Homo sapiens: one gene and its partners. The protein of the gene in region 3 purifies or fractionates together with the protein of the main gene of each other region. This does not show direct contact. Each region holds a gene or a part of one and is shown on either strand. Other genes may lie near its edges.

Region 1 (3,629 bases), on a different chromosome or scaffold from region 3:
TTGAGACCTGAATGGCCAGGAGCTTTCAGATGACACTGTCCTTCCAGAGGAGACATTCTCAGGAGCTTTATGCCAAGGGACACTGTCTGTGGAGAATTTGTCTGATTTGGAGACCAAGTAATTTGCTCCCTTCCCCCATACCCTGAACTCCCAGTGGGCCACTGGGGAGCACAAGGTCTGCTGTGCACAGGGTGAGCAGGGGGACTGTTCCCGGCCCAACTTTTTTTTTTTTTTTTTTTTTGAGACAGAGTCTCACTCTGTTTCCCAGGCTGGAGTGCAGTGGCGCGATCTCAGCTCACTGCAAGCTCCGCCTCCTGGGTTCAAGTGATTCTCCTGCCTCAGCGTCCCAAGTACCTGGGATTACAGGTGTGCGCCACCATGCCCAGCTAATTTTTTTATTTTTAGTAGAGACGGGGTTTCACCATGTTGGTCAGGCTGGTCTTGAACTCCTGACCTTGTGATCCGCCTGCCTTGGCCTCCCAAAGTGCTGGGATTACAGGCGTGAGCCACTGCGCTCCATCCCGGCCCGACTTTTGGGGAGTGAAGCTTTGTCCTCTGCAGTCACACAACATGACAACCTGGGAGGAACTGCAGTTTAAATCTGATTCCAAGGCTTTTTCCCCCAACCCAGGTCAACACACTCAACCAGGCAGGGTGGCTCAGGACATCAGCACAGCACAGTCCCCTACTCGACACTTTACAGATGTGGATTTGCAGGTGTTCTGCGACTTGCCCAGGGTCATGCTTGTGGGAAGCAAAGCTGGGAAAACAGATTCTGTGCCTCCTGCAGTCTTTTCTCCCCGATGGATCAGGCATTACACACAGAAGCGTGATTTTGGAATAATAGACTCTGGAGTTATTCTTATGTTCTTCTCTGTGACTGAACTGCTCTGTCCCCACCCCTCTAGGGAGTGTCCCAGGGAGCCTGTGGGCTGCTGTGACTGGCTCTATAGTTCTTTCCTGCCCATCCTTCCAGGCCTGGTGACAGAACCTATGCTGGTCTGCTGCAGGGAGTGGCTGACCTCCCATCAAATTACCTCAGAACTCTGTGGCCAGCCTCCTTGCCCTCTGTGTTGCCAGTCCAGAGCATTCAGTGTCCCCAGACCCCCCACTGCCTTCCTTTATCCAGGTCCTAATCATAATCCTATCACCTCCTGCCCTAAAAACCTCTGCTTGCAAGATCAAGTCCATGCAACTGAGTTAGGTGTTTGTGGCCCCTTCTAAACTGGACCAAAGCCTCACCTCCCACTCCTCCCCACTCACATCCTGATGCCCTAGATAAGCGGCACTGCAGCGGGAGTGCACCATCACGCGCATACGTGACGCACGCACACTCAACTATGTGGCTCAGCCAAGAAAAAGCAGAGTGAGAAAAAAGTAATAATGCAAAGACGGCCCTGGAGGCTCTGCCTGCCACCCCAGTCCATGAGTGAGAGCGAGGGAGCCGGGCAGGAGATGTGGCTCTGTTGCTCGCTCCTGTGCTCCCATCCTTGTGGGCTCCTCCCAGAATGAGCATCTCCTCACCCTGAGAATGATCCTAAGGACTAAACACAGGCCTTGGTTGCACCACAGAGCCCCCAAATGCAAGGCAAGCACCTCGCGTAAAGGAAACAAAGCAATCTGCTCCCGTGCGGCAGGAAAAGCTGGCTGTAAGGGGCCTAAAGACAGGCCTGGCCTTTACAAGTGGGCAGAGAACATGTTTTCAAGGATAAAATGATACAGTACTTTTGCTTTACATTTTGGAGAAGAATCACTGAATATTCTTCCAAACGTGGCTTTCCGCCCCTCCGCCTTGCTCACACTGCTTCCTGGTGCCCTTAAGATTCAGCTCCAGTGTCCCCTCTTCTGGGAAGCTTTTGCAGACAGCCCCAGACAGGCCTGGCCACACCCTCCTCTATGTCCCAAATGCCTTTGAGTTTTCTCCTATCAAGGAAGGGGAGACACACATGATGCTCACGTGTCTGTCTATCTCAGGAGACTGGGGTTACCCTCTGGGGCCGGTCCCTGGGAGGATCTGCTATGGGACACCAGCTGGAGGCTGGCTAGGCAGTGAGGCAACAACCCAATTCCTTCAACTCCTCGGGCCCTGCTTGGATCCTCTGGAGACACCACTGTGCCAGGACTCCTGATGAGCCACAGAGAATGTGCCATGAGGTCTGTTCCTACATGGGGAGGTAGAAGACCCCTTACCTGGTGCAACCATAATTTCATTTTTCTTGGAGCGAATTCGAAGGAAGGTGAGATCGTTCTGGGGGTCGATGTCACGCACGGTGCTCCGTGCCTTCAGGATGAAGCTGTGCATGAGGCTGGCATACTGGGTGGTGGTGGGGTTGTCCATGGTGCTCTTGATGGGAATGCCTGAGGGGAGAGCAGACGGAGACTGAGAGGATGTGGAGCCCCTTCTGCCGAGCTCCCACCCACACCCCTAATTGGGGAGAACTGGAATAGCAGTTCTCAGTCAATGCCACCATCCGCAGAGGGCTTGCTATGTGACAGGCATGGTGCTGAGCACCCGAAGCATGCCAGTGCCATGCCCTAGAACTACTCTGTGGGTGGCAACACCATCTCATTCGCCCATGAGGCAACAGGAGCTCTGAGTGATGAGGCGACCTGTCTGTAGTCACACAGTGGGGCCAGGATTCACATGCAGGCCTGCTGGCTCACTCCTGGGTTCCTTTCCCAGGGCTGATTGGTTCCCAGCAGTAAAAGGAGAGACTAGCTCTGATTCATGCAGGGACACAGATTTAAAAAACTAACAAAATCAGGTTTTTATTTTTTTGTCCAAAAAAAGAGAGACTCTCATTCATAGTGCTTAGAATTGAAACCAGGAAGCGCTTTTACAAATTTCTTTTTTTTGAGACGGAGTCTTGCTCTGTTGCCCAGGCTGGAGTGCAGTGGCTCACTGCAACCTCTGCCTCCCGGGTTCAAGTGATTCTCCTGCCTCAGTTTCCCAAGTATCTGGGATTACAGGCGCGTGCCACAGCACCCAGCTAGCTAATTTTTGTATTTTTAGTAGAGACAAGGTTTCACCATGTTTGCCAGGCTGGTCTTGAACTCCTGACCTCAGGTGATCCGCCCACCTCGGCCTCCCAAAGTGCTGGGATTACAGACGTGAGCCATCGCACCCTGCCTTACAAACTTCTTTTATTTATTTTATTTTATTTTTTGAGATGGAGTCTTGCTGTGTCGCCCAGGCTGGAGTGCAATGGTGCAACCTCGGCTCATTGCAACCTCCGCCTCCCAGGTTCAAGTGATTCTCCTGCCTCAGCCTCCTGTGTAGCTGGAACTACAGACGCGCACCACCACACCTGGCTGATTTTTGTATTTTTAGAAGAGACGGGGTTTCACCATACTGGCCAGGCTAGTCTTGAACTCCTGACCTCATGATCCACCCGCCTCGGCCTTCCAAAGTGCTGGGATTACAGGCGTGAGCCACCGCGCCCGGCCACAAACTTCTACACACTAAAAAGTAGAAGAGAAAAAGTCAGCTTGTGCTGGGACATAACCATCATGATTTCCACCCAAGGGAGGCTTGGGTAGCAGCTATAAACACACTGTCCACATGGCCGTGCCAAGTTAAAGCATGTTTCTATGTTTGTACAACAGGCACAGAAACATGGAACATGTTG
Region 2 (3,629 bases), on a different chromosome or scaffold from region 3:
TCATTCATTTAAAATGTACAGTTCTGTGTCTTTTAGTATATTCAACGTTGCGCAAACATTACCACAATCAATTTTAGAACATTTTCATTATCCCCCAAAAGAAACCCTGCATCCCTTAGCCTCTCGGTTCCCCGATCTACCCCAGTCCGGGCAACCACAATTCTACTTCCCATTTCTATGTTAATTTGCCTGTTCCGGACATTTCTTTTTTTCTTTTCTGTGTTTTTTTTTTTTTTTTTTGAGACAGAGTCTTGCTCTGTCGCCCAGGCTGGAGTACAGTGGCGCGATCTCAGCTCATTGCAATCTCCACCTCCCGGGTTCAAGCGATTCTTCTGCCTCAGCCTCCCGAGTAGCTGGGACTACAGGCGCGTGCCACCATGCCCGGCTAATTTCTGTATTTTTAGTAGAGATGGGGTTTCACCATATTGGCCAGGCTGGTGTCGAGCTCCCGGCCTCAGGTGATCCACCTGCCTTGGACTCCCAAAGTGCTGGGATTACAGGCATAAGCCACTGTGCTCAGCTTGATATTTCTTATAAACGGGATCATACCCCTGTGAGGTCCTTTCACTCAGCACATGGACAGTAGTGTTTTGATTTGTGCTGACTGGGTGGTGGCTTCACTGGGCAGTGCTCTGACTTAGGTTGGAGATCAAGCCTTTTTCCTATGCTCATGAGCCTTTTGTGTTTTCAGGGCTCCATTGGCCTCCAGAGGACTGGGAGCCTGCCCCGGAAAAGGGGGGAGAGGGGGAGCCAGAGAGGATCCCCCCGACCTCTGTCCTTCCATTGTACTGGTGAGGATCCCCCTGTTCCCCACTTCCTTCCCACATCAGCACTCATCCTGCAGCAGAGGATGGAGGAAACCCGCACCTATGCCTGCAGGGGAGAAGTGGATAGGCTCAGGCCAGGGTGTATCCAGCCCTGTAACCTGGTCCCCTCTACCCTAGAATCCCTGGAGGCCTCAGCTCTCCCGCCAGCAGTGGGGGACTCCGGCAGATACCCCCTCTACCAGCTGCTGAACTGTGGCCGTGGGAATAGGTGAGACATCAGAGAGAAGGTGGGGAGATGGAAGAAGAGGCCCAGCCACTGTAACCCACCCCGTCTGTGTTCCCTCCTCCTAGCTGTGGGGCCATCCATCCAGACATTGCCCACATGGAGCGGCTCCTGCAGCAGGCCATGGCGGAGAGGGAGCGGCTGCTCAAGGCCCGGGTGAGAGCCCAGGCCATCCTCTTCGGAACAGAAGACTGCCCCAGCCTCTCCTCCCTCAGACCTGGGAGACCCCCAACTCCACCTCCCTCAGACCCAGGGGTCCAGGCCCCCAGCCCCTCCACCCTCAGACCCAGGAGTCCAGGCCCCCAGCCCATCCTCCCTCATACCCAGGAGTCCAGGCCCCCAGTCCCTGTACCCTCAGAACAGAGAAGCTAGGACATTCTCCAGCCACCCTACCATCTTATGGGCTGGGATCCTCATTGAGTGCTTCATCCTGAATCCACAGGAAGGAACAAGAAGGGGCACGGAAGGTTCCTCAGGCCCTGCTGTTCCTGCCATCACGGTCAGTCCCACCCCCGCCCTCACGCCCACCTCTCCCTGCTCTGTTTCTCCCCCTGACCTATGCCCTTTCTTACATCTGACCCTTTCCTCTCCTCCAATTGAACAGAAAATTGTCCTGGGCTTGGCAAGGGAAAGGGAACTGCAGAGGACCAGTTCCTGTTCCCATGACCGGATGATGGTCATCTCCATGTGTGGCAGGTCCTCGGGTAACTTGCTCTACTCTGCCTCATTTTCCTCTTCTGTACATTGGTGACAATGTCAGCAGTCAGTACAGAAGGAGGACAAGTCCATGCTGGGACTTATTCCTGGCCTCAAGCAATCCTCCTGCCTCAGCCTCCCAGAGTACTGGGATTATAGCGTGAACCACCATGCCCAGTCCATGCTGGAACTTTTAAAAATCATTTAAAATTTTGTTTTTGGCTGGGTGCAGTGGCTCATGCCTGTAATCCCAGCACTTTGGGAGGCCAAGGCGGGTGGATCACCTGAGTTTGCGACCAGCCTGGCCAGCATGGTGAAACCCCATCTCTACTAAAAATACAAAAATTAGCCGGGCATGGTGGCACATGCCTGTAATCCCAGCTACTCGGGAGACTGAGGCATGAGAATCACTTGAACCCGCAGGTGGAGGTTGCAGTGAGCCGAGATTGTACCACTACACTCCAGCCTTGGCAATAAGAGCGAAAATCTGTCTCAAAAAAAAAAAAAAATCAAAACCAAAAAACTGTTTTTATTTTTATTTATTTAAAAAACTTTTTAGGCCGGGCGCAGTGGCTCACGCCTGTAATCCCAGCACTTTGGGAGGCTGAGGTGGGTGGATCATGAGGTCAGGAGTTCAAGACCAGCCTGGCCAAGATGGTGAAACCCCGTCTCTACTAAAAATACAAAAAATTAGCCGGGCATGGTGGCGGGCACCTGTAATCCCAGCTACTCAGGAGGCTGAGGCAGAGAATTGCTTGAACCTGGGAGGTGCAGGTTGCAGTGAGCCAAGATCACACCACTGCACTCCAGTCTTGGTGACAGACCAAGATTCTGTCTCAAAAAAAAAAACAAAAAACCTTTTTACGATAGAAATATTCAAGCATATGCATGAGAGAAGGAGTAGATTAATAGACCCCCAGGTGCCCACTGCGCAGCTTTAATCATTTTCAATATTGAATCTTGTACTTGCCAACTTTTTATTTATTTTATTTAACATTTTAATTTGTGTATGTACTAGGTATATATATTTTATTTTTATTTTTAATATTTTTCTTTTTTTCTCATAAGTCTTCTGCACTCCTATATTTTTAATGTATTTTATTTTTGTAGAGATAGAGTCTTGCTATGTTGTCCAGGCTGATCTCAAACTCCTGGCCTCAAACAATCCTCCCATGTCAGCCTCCAAGCTGCTAGAATTATAAGAATAATTCTAGGGCATTGGTGCCCAGCCACCAATTTTATTTTACTAATCCCATACCTACATCCCACTCTGCACTGAAATATTTTAAAGCAAAATATTGTATCCTTTCACTCAAACATCACTGTGTATCTCCAATAGATAGGCTTGTTTTTTGGGGGACAGAGTTTTACTCTTGTCGCCCAGGCTAGAGTGCAGTGATGTGATCTCAGCTCACTGGAACCTCTGCCTCCCTGGTTCAAGCGATTCTTCTACCTCAGCCTCCCGAGTAGCTGGGAGTACAGGTGCCCACCACCACACCCATTTATTTTTTTTGTTTGTTTTTAGTAGCGATGGGGTTTTGCCATGCTGTCCGGGCTGGTCTTGAACTCCTGACCTCAGGTGATCTGTGTGCCTTGGCCTCAAAAAGTGCTGGGATTAAAAGTGTAAGCCACTGTGCCTGGCCAATAAGTTTTTTTTTTTTTTTAACATAACAAAAATTCCATTGTCACATCTTATGAGATTATTAATTTCATTATATTGTAATATATAGTCCATATTCACATTTCTCTCATTGTCTCCAAAATATGTTTTTAAAAATTTATTTATTATTTTTCTTTTCCTTTTTTTTTTTTTTTTCCAAGATGGAGTCTCACTTTGTTGCCCAAGCTGGAGTGCAGTATTACAATCTCGGCTCACTGCAATC
Region 3 (3,629 bases):
CCATCTCTACTAAAAATACACAAAATTATCTGGGCATGGTGGCACATACCTGTAATCCCAGCTACTTGGGAGGCTGAGACACAAGAATCACTTGAACCCGAGAGGCAGAGGTTGCAGTGAGCTGAGATTGTGCCACTGCTCTCCAGCCTGGGTGACAGAGCGAGACTGTCTCAAAAAAAAAAAACACGCCACAGGGGACAAAAAAAAATAACCATACAGAAAGAGCTGGCAGGGTAGCACGTGCCTATAGTCCCAGCTACCTGAGAGGCTGATGGGGGAAGATTACTTGTGCCCAGGAGATTGAGTCCAGCCTGAGCAACACGGCAACACTCCATCTCTGAAAAAATAATTTTTAAAGAAAAAACATGGAAAGGCTTCATCTTAGGACAACTTAGTAACACTATAAGCACAGAAGAGAGAAACATAAGTAGCTCACCTGTAGGATGGTTACGGTTTTCTTCTTTTAAATTATTTTTTTCCACAGGTGCTTCTTGATACTGTGCCTCAGAAAATAAATTAGGAGACGCACGTTTTGAAGTTAAGACAAAATCTCCATGAGCAGTTCTACAGAAGTTGCTTTGCTCATGGGATAAAATGTTGGACGGGTATGTTTCTTCCTGGGTTGGGTCCGGGTAGACATATGATGGGAAGCAGCATGTGGCTCTCTCTCCAGTGGTGGTATTTCCTGGAGACCTGTGCTTCTGGCTCTGATCATCAGGCAGTAAACTCAAACCTTACAATTAAGAAATGCAACAAAGCTGATGACTTCCTTCAACATTTTCTCTTTTATCCCCAGTAGTGACCCCCACCCCACAAAGACTTCTCCACAGTGACAACAGTATTTTTTCCCTTTATTAGGAAATGGTGTTTAACAAAACCATTGATTGTTTGAGACAGTCTCGCTCTGTCGCCAAGGCTGAAGTGCAGTGGTGCGATCTCAGCTCACTGCAACCTCCACCTCTTGGGTTCAAGTGATTCTCGTGCCTCAGCCTCCTGAGTAGCTGGGATTACAGGCGTGTGCCACCACGCCCAGCTAATTTTTTATATTTTTAGAACAGATAGGGTTTCACCATGTTGGCCAGGCTGGTCTTGAACTCCGGACCTCAGGTGATCTGCCGGCCTTGGCCTCCCAAAGTACTGGGATTACAGGTGTGAGCCACTATGTCTAGCCTGTTTAAATTTCTAATGCAGTAAGTTATTGGTAAATACAGCCCATATAACAAAAGTTCTTTGGGGCTCTCAAATATTTAAGAATCCTAAGGGATCCTGAGACCAAAATATTTGAAAACTACTGCTCCAAAGCAAACTGCTCCATGACTGCATGAGGCTAGTTCTTATGTAAATAACTTTGAAATCAGCTTCCCTGTCATTCTGTCATAGTGCGGTTCTACCTTTAAAAGTATCACAGCTGTTATTTAAGTGATCTTGATTATTCTTTGTATGTATTCCATAAAGAAACCCTAAGCCATTCAACTATTTTAAGGCACACAAATGTTTTCTATATTCTCTAAGATAAACATCCAAATTCCCTAAACCATTGTTTATGTGCTACAATTTCTCATGACCACACCCCACCTGACCCCTGCACCCAGCCTCACTCACTTGCCAAGTCTTTTTTTCCTTGTATTCTCAATGCCCAGCATAATCTCTGAGCAGAACAGGTGCTTTCCTGGGTCAGTAAAGTATATTTCTTAAAAGAAGCAAACACATGGCTCCAACCTCAGTTTTTTTCAAACTATGGGACACAATCTATAATAATTTTATTATCGGATGTAGCATTTTTTAAAATGATATAGAACTAGAATAAACAAGACAGAAAATGTCCTCACTACATGCCAGGAACACCAATAAGGACTGATGACATGAAATTGCTTTGTCATTATGAGTCACGATTTTAAACATTTTTACTACTACAGAGTGTGGTCAAGAAACTTTCAAACCACTGCTCCAGGTCACATTTCCAGTTTTCTTTCCTGATTGGCACGTGACGCTTTCCGTTAACTGATGGGTCACACAACAGAATACTGTCATCTCCTACCACAGAAAATATCTTTGGTATGGTTCTTCAGCTGAACAGAGTGGCTCCTACATGTATTTACCTTCATGACACCCAACAGTTTTCATTCATCAGGCAGGGGTTGGATACCAGCAGCAGCTCTAGGCCAAATCTGACTTTTCTTCTATTGGACCTTTTTTGGGGGGACAGGGTCTCACTCTGTTGCCCGGCTGGAATGCAGTGGTGCCATTATAGCTCACTGCTGCAGCCTCAAATTCCTGGGCTCAAGCAATCCTCCCACCTCAGTCTCCAGAGTAGCTAGGACTGCAGGCATGGACCACCACACCCAGCTCATTTTTTTTTTTTTTTTAATGAATAAACATCAATGCCTTAAAGCAGGGCATGCGCACACCAGAATGCGGCAGCTCCTTCTTGTTCCAGTTGTATTACAACTCTACCATTTCACATTTATCGGGCTAGCCTTTAAAGAAACTGGAGTTCACAACACATGATACAGGAACGATAGAAATAACGTGTCAAACAACTACAGGTAAGAAATGTGCATTATACTGAGGCCCTGTGTAGGCAAAGCATACCTGGAAGTGTGCACTGCCCAGACACCATGGTGAGCAGCTTCTCTTGTTCTTCCATGAGTCTCTGTAGTTGCTCCAACTGTTGCCTCTTCAATTGTTCCTGCTTCTTCTGTTGTACTTCTTTCAGCTTTTTAAATACAAAATTAACTTTATTAAATCAACTTTACAATTCTTCATGGACACCTCGTTCCCTTAATTCCTCCCATCTCCCTCCTCCTATCTTTCCTGGTAAGAAGTTTTAGACAGGGACCCCTAGGTAACTAAATCAGCCACCGAAAATCTAAAACTCATATCCTTACGAAGGAAATCTTATCAACTATCTCAACTAAGAAACCGAAACAGTCATATAAATCCTTTGATTGTTAAAATAGGATGGGCATCAGTACATCATCCAATTTTTTCCCCTAATACTTGATCAACCATTTCTTACTTTTCGCCAAATGAGGTAACAACTTAAAGTTATTATAAGTGCTAATTAAACACACTTAAATGTTTCACATTAGACAAAGGGCAAAATCTGGTATTCTGAGGATTTCAGAGTGAAGGGGAAAAAACAAGAAGACCTAGAACAAATGACTTTATTACATAAACAGAAACCTGCAATGACATAAATTCACAGTAGGCCAAATCCTATTGTACCTGTTCAAGTTTTTTAAAAAGTGGGTCTTTATAAGCCCCTTCTTTGAATTCACTCGCAAGATCTGGGATGAAGTCATTTTTGTTTTCTTCCTGGTGTCCAGGAGCACTGTGACATGCCGCTACCTGTGGTCCCTTTTTAATGCAAGGAAAGGCTGTATGGGTTTCAGATTTATCTGACTGTGGTTTGTAAGGGTTGTTTGACTCCAACTTCTGTTCTTCAAGAAGTGAATCTTCTTCATTTATAAAGCTGAAGCTATCAGAAAAATGTGTGCCTTTAATAGGAAAGCTGGTAGAAATGTCCACAGCTGCTCGCTTCTCTTTGTCTGCTTCCAAAATAGGAAATCCACGATTTAATATGACCCCAGCCCGAGAAGGATTGGTCATCCACTGGGTTAGGAAGT
Region 4 (3,629 bases), on a different chromosome or scaffold from region 3:
CCGAGGCGGGTGGATCATGAGGTCAGGAGATCGAGACCATCCTGGCTAACAAGGTGAAACCCCGTCTCTACTAAAAATACAAAAAATTAGCCGGGCACGGTGGCGGGCGCCTGTAGTCCCAGCTACTCGGGAGGCTGAGGCAGGAGAATGGCGTGAACCCGGGAAGCGGAGCTTGCAGTGAGCCGAGATTGCGCCACTGCAGTCCGCAGTCCGACCTGGGCGACAGAGCGAGACTCCGTCTCAAAAAAAAAAAAAAAAAAAAAAAAAAAAAAAATGATGCTGTAATAGACAGAGGATGTGACAAAAGGTTGAAAACACATTCCTCGATGATTATGGTATAAGGAGAACCACCTCTGAGTTTAGAATTTATAGGATGTTTCAACCCCTGTGTTTCTATAATGGGCTTTTCTTTTCTTTTGAGACAGGGTCTCACTCTGTTGCCAGGCTACAGTGCAGTGAGGCTATCTTGGCTCACTGCAGCCTCGACCTCCTGGGCTCAAGTGAGCCTCCCACCTCCGCTCTGGAGTAGCTGGGACTACAGGCGTGTGCCACCACACCCAGCTAATTTTTCCATTTTTTGTATGGGTGGGTGACTTTTAAATGTGCCTCTTTCTCAACAGACTTCTTTTCATCCTTATAAGAGATATAATCCTCAACATACTTAGCATTTCATGAACAATAAAAGTATTGTTTCTCAAATCTGTAGACAATTAGGGAAGAGGTCTAATTCATTATCAAAGCTTCAGGAAGGTATTAAATGTTTTCTTTGGCTTTCCCCTATGGCTTAATGTACTTAGAGAGTCAATGACTGATTTTCCATGCCAACTTTGAAATCCTAACCTGGTTTCCCTCAGTTGCCTTAGACTTACCTGGATGGCATTCTCTATATCCTACCGTTCCTCTCAACCCCAAGTTTGTGAGTTAGTGACTACAGATTGTTCAACATTTGCTTAAAGAGTAATCAACACAGCAAATCTGCTATTATTATAATAAAAAATCATTAATTAGGCTGGGTGCAGTGGCTCATGCCTGTAATCCCAGCACTTTGGGAGGCCACGCTGGGAGGATGGCTTGAGTCCAGGCATTTGAGACCAGCTTGGGCAACATATCGAGAACTTGTCTCTACAAAAAAATCAAAAAATTAGTCAGGTATGGTGGTGCATGCCTGTGGTCCCAGCTACTCCGAAGACTAAGGTGAGAAGATCGCTTGAGCCCGGGAGGTGAGGCTGCAGTGAGCCGCGATTGTGCCACTGCACTCCAGCCTGGGCAACAGAGTGAGACCCTTTCTCAAAAAAAGAAAAGAAAATCATGAATTCATTCTGCATTATTGACACTTCTGCTCTGATTTCACATATAAGAGCGAACAGACTGCACTTGAGACCTCATGGGTGCTTGGTGTAATAATGAGTGTAACCCAAAATAGTAAAGAGGAGGAATGCACTTCCTATATCTTGCAGTCTGTTTCACTGTAGTGGTTGGTCTGTCTGTGTGTGTTTACCTGGGAGGTAGGATATGGGGCCAGTGGGCTGGTTGAAGACAGCTGTCTGCTGAAACCTTGATGTGCTTCAGGGCCAGGAGAAAGCGTGAGAGGGCTGACGGGAGGCTGCCGACGCCGAGACGGGCCGCTCAGGTTTGTGGTGGAAAGAGATGGGTTGCTAAGGGAAAACAGACGGAGCGAAGGGTGAAGAGCAGATGCGTTGGGAACAGATGTCTGTGGGTGGTTATTTAAGGAAGAGGAAAGCACAGTCTTATTGAGCGTGGCTTGGATGGAGGGGTTACTCCGAGAACTCTGGAGACCTGGAAGACAACAAATTCACAAGTTACTTATAATTTCAGACCAAATCTTTTGTATTCCAAAAATGAAAGAAAACTGTCTACTGTCACATGCGATGATGATTCTGTAGGTAAAGGAGCTCCTGGACAGCTCTCCTACAGGGACTGCATCCGATGCACCAATGGCAAGGAAAAGATGCCCCTGCACTAACAGAGATGGGGCCACAAAGATGACAACGATGTTTTCCCATGAGGAGGGAGATCACGTCAACAACCCCTAGGTGAGCAAAACTAGGTAAACCGGGGTAACAGAGGCAAATATTCCAGGTGCTCGGCCCAGACCCAGGGAAAGGACCCTAGGGCTGTACAACAAATTCTGTTTAGAGCCCCGGAAGGTCTCTGTCCCAAGCACACTGCCTGCATCCCCTGCTACCTTTGGAGAACATCCTTCCACGGCGAGTCATGGCCCTTGGGGAGCTGTCTTGGTGGTCTTTAATTACCCTTAGCACACTAGGGAGTCACAGGAAGGGACACTTCCCTGTATCTCCCACCCCAGGGTCCCTCTTTGATTTTCTGGTTCCCAGGAAATTGTTCATCACAGTCTATACCAACTCAGGGAAAAGGAAGTTTTTGCTGGTGCTTTATTTGGGGGACAGGGGTGAATTTGATCATGAGCAAGGAAATTTGGGAGAGAGATCTTTGCAGCATAGGCTGCTAGGGCATGAGCTCCCAGAAACTGGGGATCCTGTCCTATGCCCTGCTGGATCCTCAGCACCTGGCACAGGGCCTGGCATGGAGCAGGTTCGCCCAGTGAATCAATTATTCGGCTGCTGCTGCTGTGTGTATCTCAACTGGCAATACCTACGTTTTAACCTTCAGCCCATCTTTCTTGTACCAGCAGGTGGGGTAAGCAGAACTATGTGTTGTTTCGTGTTGACAAAAAATTTAAGTGTTTGATAAAAGTTACGAAAAGGAAGAAATGACAAAAATCCAGCAGCTGGCAAAATTATTATTATCACTATTATTATTATTATTTTTTTTGAGACAGAGTCTCGCTCTGTCACCCAGGCTGGAGTGCAGTGACATGATCTCAGCTCACTGCAAGCTCCGTCTCCCGGGTTCACGCCATTCTCCTGCCTCAGCCTCCCAAGTAGCTGGGACTACAGGCATGTGCCGCCACGCCTGGTTAATTTTTTGTAATTTTAGTAGAGATGGGGTTTCACCGTGTTAGCCAGGATGGTCTCGATCTCCTGACCTCGTGATCCACTCGCCTCGGCCTCCCAAAGTGCCGGGATTACAGGAGTGAGCCACCGCACCCAGCCTAAAATTCTTAAAAATAATTTTGCCGGCTGGGCGTGGCTCACGCCTGTAATCCCGGCACTTTGGGAGGCCGAGGCGGGTGGATCATGAGGTCAGGAGATCAAGACCATCCTGGCTAACAAGGTGAAACCCCGTCTCTACTAAAAAAATTAGCCGGGCGTGGTGGCAGGTGCCTGTAGTCCCAGCTACTGGGGAGGCTGAGGCAGGAGAATGGCGTGAACCTAGGAGGCAGAGCTTGCAGTGAGCCGAGATGGCGCCACTGCACTCCAGCCTGGGCGACACAGCAAGAGTCTGTCTCAAAAAGAAAAAAAAAAAAGAAAATACAGAAACTGACATTGGTTCTGACATGTTCTGGATAAAATAGTGCTTTTTTGAGAAGACAACCAGTGACTAAACATAAGATCTTCAGCTTGAAGCAAAGTGTCAAAGGCTGTACTGGAAAATGCCAGCTTCCCTGAGACCCAAAGGAGCTATGTGCTGATGCTGCTTTACTTCTGGGACCCTAGATATCTTCATACATTGAGGATTCACCCAAA
Region 5 (4,224 bases), on a different chromosome or scaffold from region 3:
TCACTGCAACCTCCGCCTCCCGGGTTCAAGCTATTCTCCCGCCTCAGCCTCCCAAGCAGCTGGGATGTCAGGCATGCGCCACCACGCCCGGCTAATTTTGTATTTTTTGTAGAGACGGGATTTCACCACGTTAGCCAGGCTGGTGTCCAACTCCGGACCTCAGGTGATCCGCCCGCCTCGGCCTCCCACAGTGCTGGCATTACAGGCGTGAGCCCTGGCCAGCCTAAGTACATTTTTGAAGGTGCTTTAATACTTTGGTTAGCAAAGTTTATGCAAACCAAAAAATTCTATATTGTGCCTTGGGAACTCTAATTTAGCACACACCAGCACTATACTAGCGCCGTAGTTTTTCTACACCATGGACACAAAAAACATTAAACAGTAAAATAAAAGGCAGATTTTCAGGAGGTTAAAAAGGTTGGAATTAAATTACCCGGCCAGCGCGACAGTTGTCAAAGCTGTACTTCGGACTCCCTGGTTCCATTCCTCCCTCCTCCTCCCGTCCCAACGCCAGAGCGGAGGTGGGGAGGGGGCAAGATGGGCGAGGCAGAGATGCTCTCCCAGCCGCCGGTTCTTCCAGCGCCGCGCACCTGCCGCCCCTTCCTCCATGCGGTCGCTGCAGCCTTCCCGCCGGACGCCTCGCCCCCCCGGGCAGGGGCGCACCTGGACCACCTGCCTCCCCGCCTCTGCCCCGAGCCTGCGGGGGCCAGGGGAGCCCGGCGCGCTGTTGTTTTTTTTTTTTTTTTTTTTTTAAAGTCAGCCTCCTAGAGGATGTTGGATTTGGCGGGTGTGCTCTTTGAAATACTATATCGGGAACCTCACACATAATTTTTTTTTTTTAATTGCAAACCTTCCCAGTTCACTCCGCAGCTGGAGAGCAGGCCGGAGGCGGCGTTCCCCACCCGTCTCCCTCTTTGTCGTCCCCTCCCCGCGCCCGGAGCGGGACTCGCGGGAGCCGCCCACTCCCGGCGCCCACTTGGTTCCTCCCAGCTGCCGTGTGAATGGGCCGTCCTCCGGATTCCGCGGAGGGGGCGGCGGGAAGGGGCCGAGCCCCGGGCCCAGCGGCCGCCCCCGCCCCCGCCCGGCGGCGGCCCACGCCGGGATCTGCGTCACTCGGCCGCGCGTGGGCGGGAGCCGGAGCGGCGAATGTAGCAAGAGCGGAATCTCCCAATGTGACAGCGCGGGGTGGGGGAGTGGAGGCGGCGGAGGCGGGCGGGGGAGGGGGAGGAGGGTGTAGCGCGCGCGGGGAAGGCAGGGGAGGGGAGGGCAAGGCGCGGCGGGGGAGGCGCTGCCGCCGCCGCCGCCGCCCGCGCGCCGCAGCCTGGAGGAGCCGCCGCCGCCGCCGCGGCCAAGCGAGCGCCGTCGGGGCGGGTGGGCGGGAAGAAGCGGCGGGCCCGAGGTGGGGGGGAGCAGAGAGAGCGCGCCCACCACCTTCCCTTCCCCCCTCGATGGGAGCGGGGGCGTCCCGGCTCCTGCAGCCGCCAGAGGAGGGAGAGCCGGGGGCCGTCGCTTCGGAGTTGGGGCTGAGCAGTCCTCGGGGAGAGCGCGCCAAGACCGCTGCAGCCGCTGGCTGAGTACGTACCGGAGCGGACGGTCGCCACTCCCGGTCCGCCAAGTGCGGGACACTTTCGCGGCTGAGCGGCCACGGGCGAACTTGGGGCGGCTGAGTCGCGGGGCCACGCGGGCACTTTGGGGGCGGTGTCCGGGGGAAGCGGGCTCCGCGCGGCCGCCGCCGGAAGGAGAGGGCGGCCCCGGGCTCGTGTGGGCGATTCCCGGAGACATTCTGTGTGCCAGGGCGGCGGGGAGCGCGGCCCTGACTCGTGCATTTTCCCTCCGAGAAAGGTTGGGGTGCCGAGTCCGTTTTGCTAACGGGGCTGGGGGCGTCACACGGCGCTCTGGGGGTGTGCGATGTGGGTTGTGCGCGCCGGCCCCAGAGTTTTGCAGCCACCTTCGTCAGGGCAGTCTTTTTGTTTGTTTACTTTATAAAAGTGCTGCACTTACCGTCTCGATTTTCTTCTTGGGTATCTTCCCTTTCCGAATGTAGTTTTCTTTTTAAAAGCGGAAGGAGAGTTTTACATGGAAGTGGCTTACAGAAACTTGGCGCTGAGGTGCAGGGAAGCCAGAAACTCTTTGTGTCTCTAAGGCCGATGAGGAATTTGGAAACACATGTGGGACATACAAGCGTTGGATATAGAGGTGTGTGTGTGTGACCTTATCATGGAGAAACACTGAAAATACTATCAAATCTTTGTGGTCTGCAAACTCAGAGCTTCCAAAGCTTGAGATAGGAAATGACACTTCTGTTAAGCCTGAATGTTGCAGGATCTCGGGGAAAGGGATAGTTGAGATGGAATATACATTTGTCGATTCTGCAGACCAAGCTTTGCAGCGAGTGATCGGGAGGAATCGTAGACTTGCATGTACTTACACCTCGCTCCCTGAGATTCGGGAGGCACGGAAAATTTTGGGATGGCTGTTAATTTAAAATTTCATCTGAAAGAGTCGATTTGGAGTAACTTGTCACTACCAGTTGGTTTGCCAGTGACGTGTCTGCCAACTCAAAGAGTGCAAAGATCAGAAGCTGAAAGAGGAATTCTCAGATCTTGTTTAAAAATATTTTGGCAGTTTTAATAGATAATATGAGATTGCATAGGAACAGAGGAGCCGAATTTAAAATAGATTAGTCACGTAGGAAATGCTTAGCTGTTGTAAAAGTGTTCACGCAATGACTTACCTTCCTAGGTTTTCACTTTTTTGAAAATTTTTCCCTGAACAACATACTGAATTATGATATTTCATAATTTGTGTGTGGGTTATAAGAAGTATGAGGAGAGAGGATGCATAGGATTTGCTTTTTCTGTTTTGGGTGGAGATTGAGCTTTTCCTGAAGACCTGAAAGAGCTGCTTCTGATCTAATCTGAGTGCCAGTAAAAGTGGCTCTTAGATGAAAGGCTTTTTCTTCTCCATATTGGTGTCATTTAAGACATACAATATTATCTTTAAGTTTAAAAGATTATATTTTTTCATCGGTATTAACATACAAATAAGGGTTTTCTTGAGTCTTTGTAGATGACTGGCTAGGTCAGCCTTTTTTATCCCTGATTTGGGTATTAGATATTGGAACATTAGGTCTTGAAAGAAAATTTCAAGGAACTTCTGGAAGAAGCTTTCTTGTTTCAATTTTATTATTTTTACCATTTTGCACTAAAGTTAATATGCCATTTCGAGATTAAAAATGTTTTTTTCCCGACTCTGATGGTCTCTTGTTACTTGTGAAGGTATCAATAATAATGTAATAATGACAACATTGAGGAACTGTAGATTTTTATTTTATTCTGCCTGCTAATTATGGATGTAATTCAAATGACAGAAATTCTTAGGATTACTATGGTTGTTACAAGGACATTTAGTAAGCTTATATGTCTAGTAAATAACTTGATCTATCTAAAAAATACTTTATCTCATCTTATTTCAAAATTATTCAGTTGAGTAATCTCTTTTTTGTAAGTGGCAAATAACATCCACTGTCGTATGAGAAAGTTAATAGATGTTTATTCTCCTTGTTAGAGAAACACTGAAAGCATTAGGTATTTTCATCACGGTATAGCTAAGAACCTATTGGTTTATTAAAGATTTTGGGGGTTTGCACTGTGGATGCTTCTTTGAAAGAAGAAATTATAAACTGGGGGACATCTTTGATGAATTTGTTAATGAACTTTAAATATTTAAAGTTCAGGTTGGATGAAAACAGAAGTATGTCAGTTTCTAAAGAAAATATAGACATGGGGTCTCGCTGTGTTGCCCAGGTTGGCCTCAAACTCCTGGGGCCAAGGGATTATCCCACCTTAGCCTCCGAAGTTATGTCAGGTTTCATTGGCCTAAGACTTAGGACTCATTTATTCCATTATAACAAGCCTGGAGCTGTTTTTTGTGAGTGCTATTTATGTACATTTTTGGAAATGAAATCTTTGTAAAATTTACCTTTAAATGCAAAGCTGTGTTTTGGATGGAAGTGACCATTTTATAATATGTTTTGAACAGTTTAAGATCATGCTAATGTATAATCAACCCGTCTATGCATATTTCATTGTGGAATTTGCTAAACATATTATAGCATAAATAATACCCACTTGAGCATAATAGAAGATTGCTAGACCCTTTGCTTTGGATTTATTTTTATCTTACCTGCTTCTTTTATCCTTTTCAACAGTAGAATGAAGAATG

What was found.
Region 1: the proteins of CPAP (region 3) and DYNLRB1 purify together in Homo sapiens (affinity purification with mass spectrometry; one large-scale study listed by BioGRID and IntAct). This does not show direct contact.
Region 2: the proteins of CPAP (region 3) and PHLDB3 purify together in Homo sapiens (affinity purification with mass spectrometry; one large-scale study listed by BioGRID and IntAct). This does not show direct contact.
Region 4: the proteins of CPAP (region 3) and CRTC3 purify together in Homo sapiens (affinity purification with mass spectrometry; one large-scale study listed by BioGRID and IntAct). This does not show direct contact.
Region 5: the proteins of CPAP (region 3) and NAB1 purify together in Homo sapiens (affinity purification with mass spectrometry; one large-scale study listed by BioGRID and IntAct). This does not show direct contact.

What each region holds. Positions count from the first base shown.
Region 1 is NC_000020.11:34,533,357-34,536,985, reverse strand, and holds part of DYNLRB1 (dynein light chain roadblock-type 1), read right to left. Parts: intron 3,463-3,629; exon of another isoform or gene 3,381-3,462; intron 2,381-3,380; exon of another isoform or gene 2,359-2,380; coding exon 2,191-2,358; coding exon of another isoform or gene 2,072-2,190; exon of another isoform or gene 1,399-2,071; intron 1-1,398. UniProt on the Homo sapiens protein: Acts as one of several non-catalytic accessory components of the cytoplasmic dynein 1 complex that are thought to be involved in linking dynein to cargos and to adapter proteins that regulate dynein function.
Region 2 is NC_000019.10:43,484,186-43,487,814, reverse strand, and holds part of PHLDB3 (pleckstrin homology-like domain family B member 3), read left to right. Parts: intron 1-691; coding exon 692-791; intron 792-944; coding exon 945-1,035; intron 1,036-1,118; coding exon 1,119-1,206; intron 1,207-1,492; coding exon 1,493-1,549; intron 1,550-1,654; coding exon of another isoform or gene 1,655-1,801; exon of another isoform or gene 1,802-2,269; intron 2,270-3,629.
Region 3 is NC_000013.11:24,909,354-24,912,982, forward strand, and holds part of CPAP (centrosomal P4.1-associated protein), read right to left. Parts: coding exon 3,229-3,629; intron 2,717-3,228; coding exon 2,593-2,716; intron 734-2,592; coding exon 437-733; intron 1-436. UniProt on the Homo sapiens protein: Plays an important role in cell division and centrosome function by participating in centriole duplication. Inhibits microtubule nucleation from the centrosome. Involved in the regulation of slow processive growth of centriolar microtubules.
Region 4 is NC_000015.10:90,627,402-90,631,030, reverse strand, and holds part of CRTC3 (CREB-regulated transcription coactivator 3), read right to left. Parts: intron 1,798-3,629; coding exon 1,499-1,797; intron 1-1,498. UniProt on the Homo sapiens protein: Transcriptional coactivator for CREB1 which activates transcription through both consensus and variant cAMP response element (CRE) sites.
Region 5 is NC_000002.12:190,647,787-190,652,010, forward strand, and holds the start of NAB1 (NGFI-A-binding protein 1), read left to right. Parts: upstream 1-1,296; 5' UTR 1,297-1,574; exon of another isoform or gene 1,575-2,059; 5' UTR 2,060-2,196; intron 2,197-2,207; exon of another isoform or gene 2,208-4,224. UniProt on the Homo sapiens protein: Acts as a transcriptional repressor for zinc finger transcription factors EGR1 and EGR2.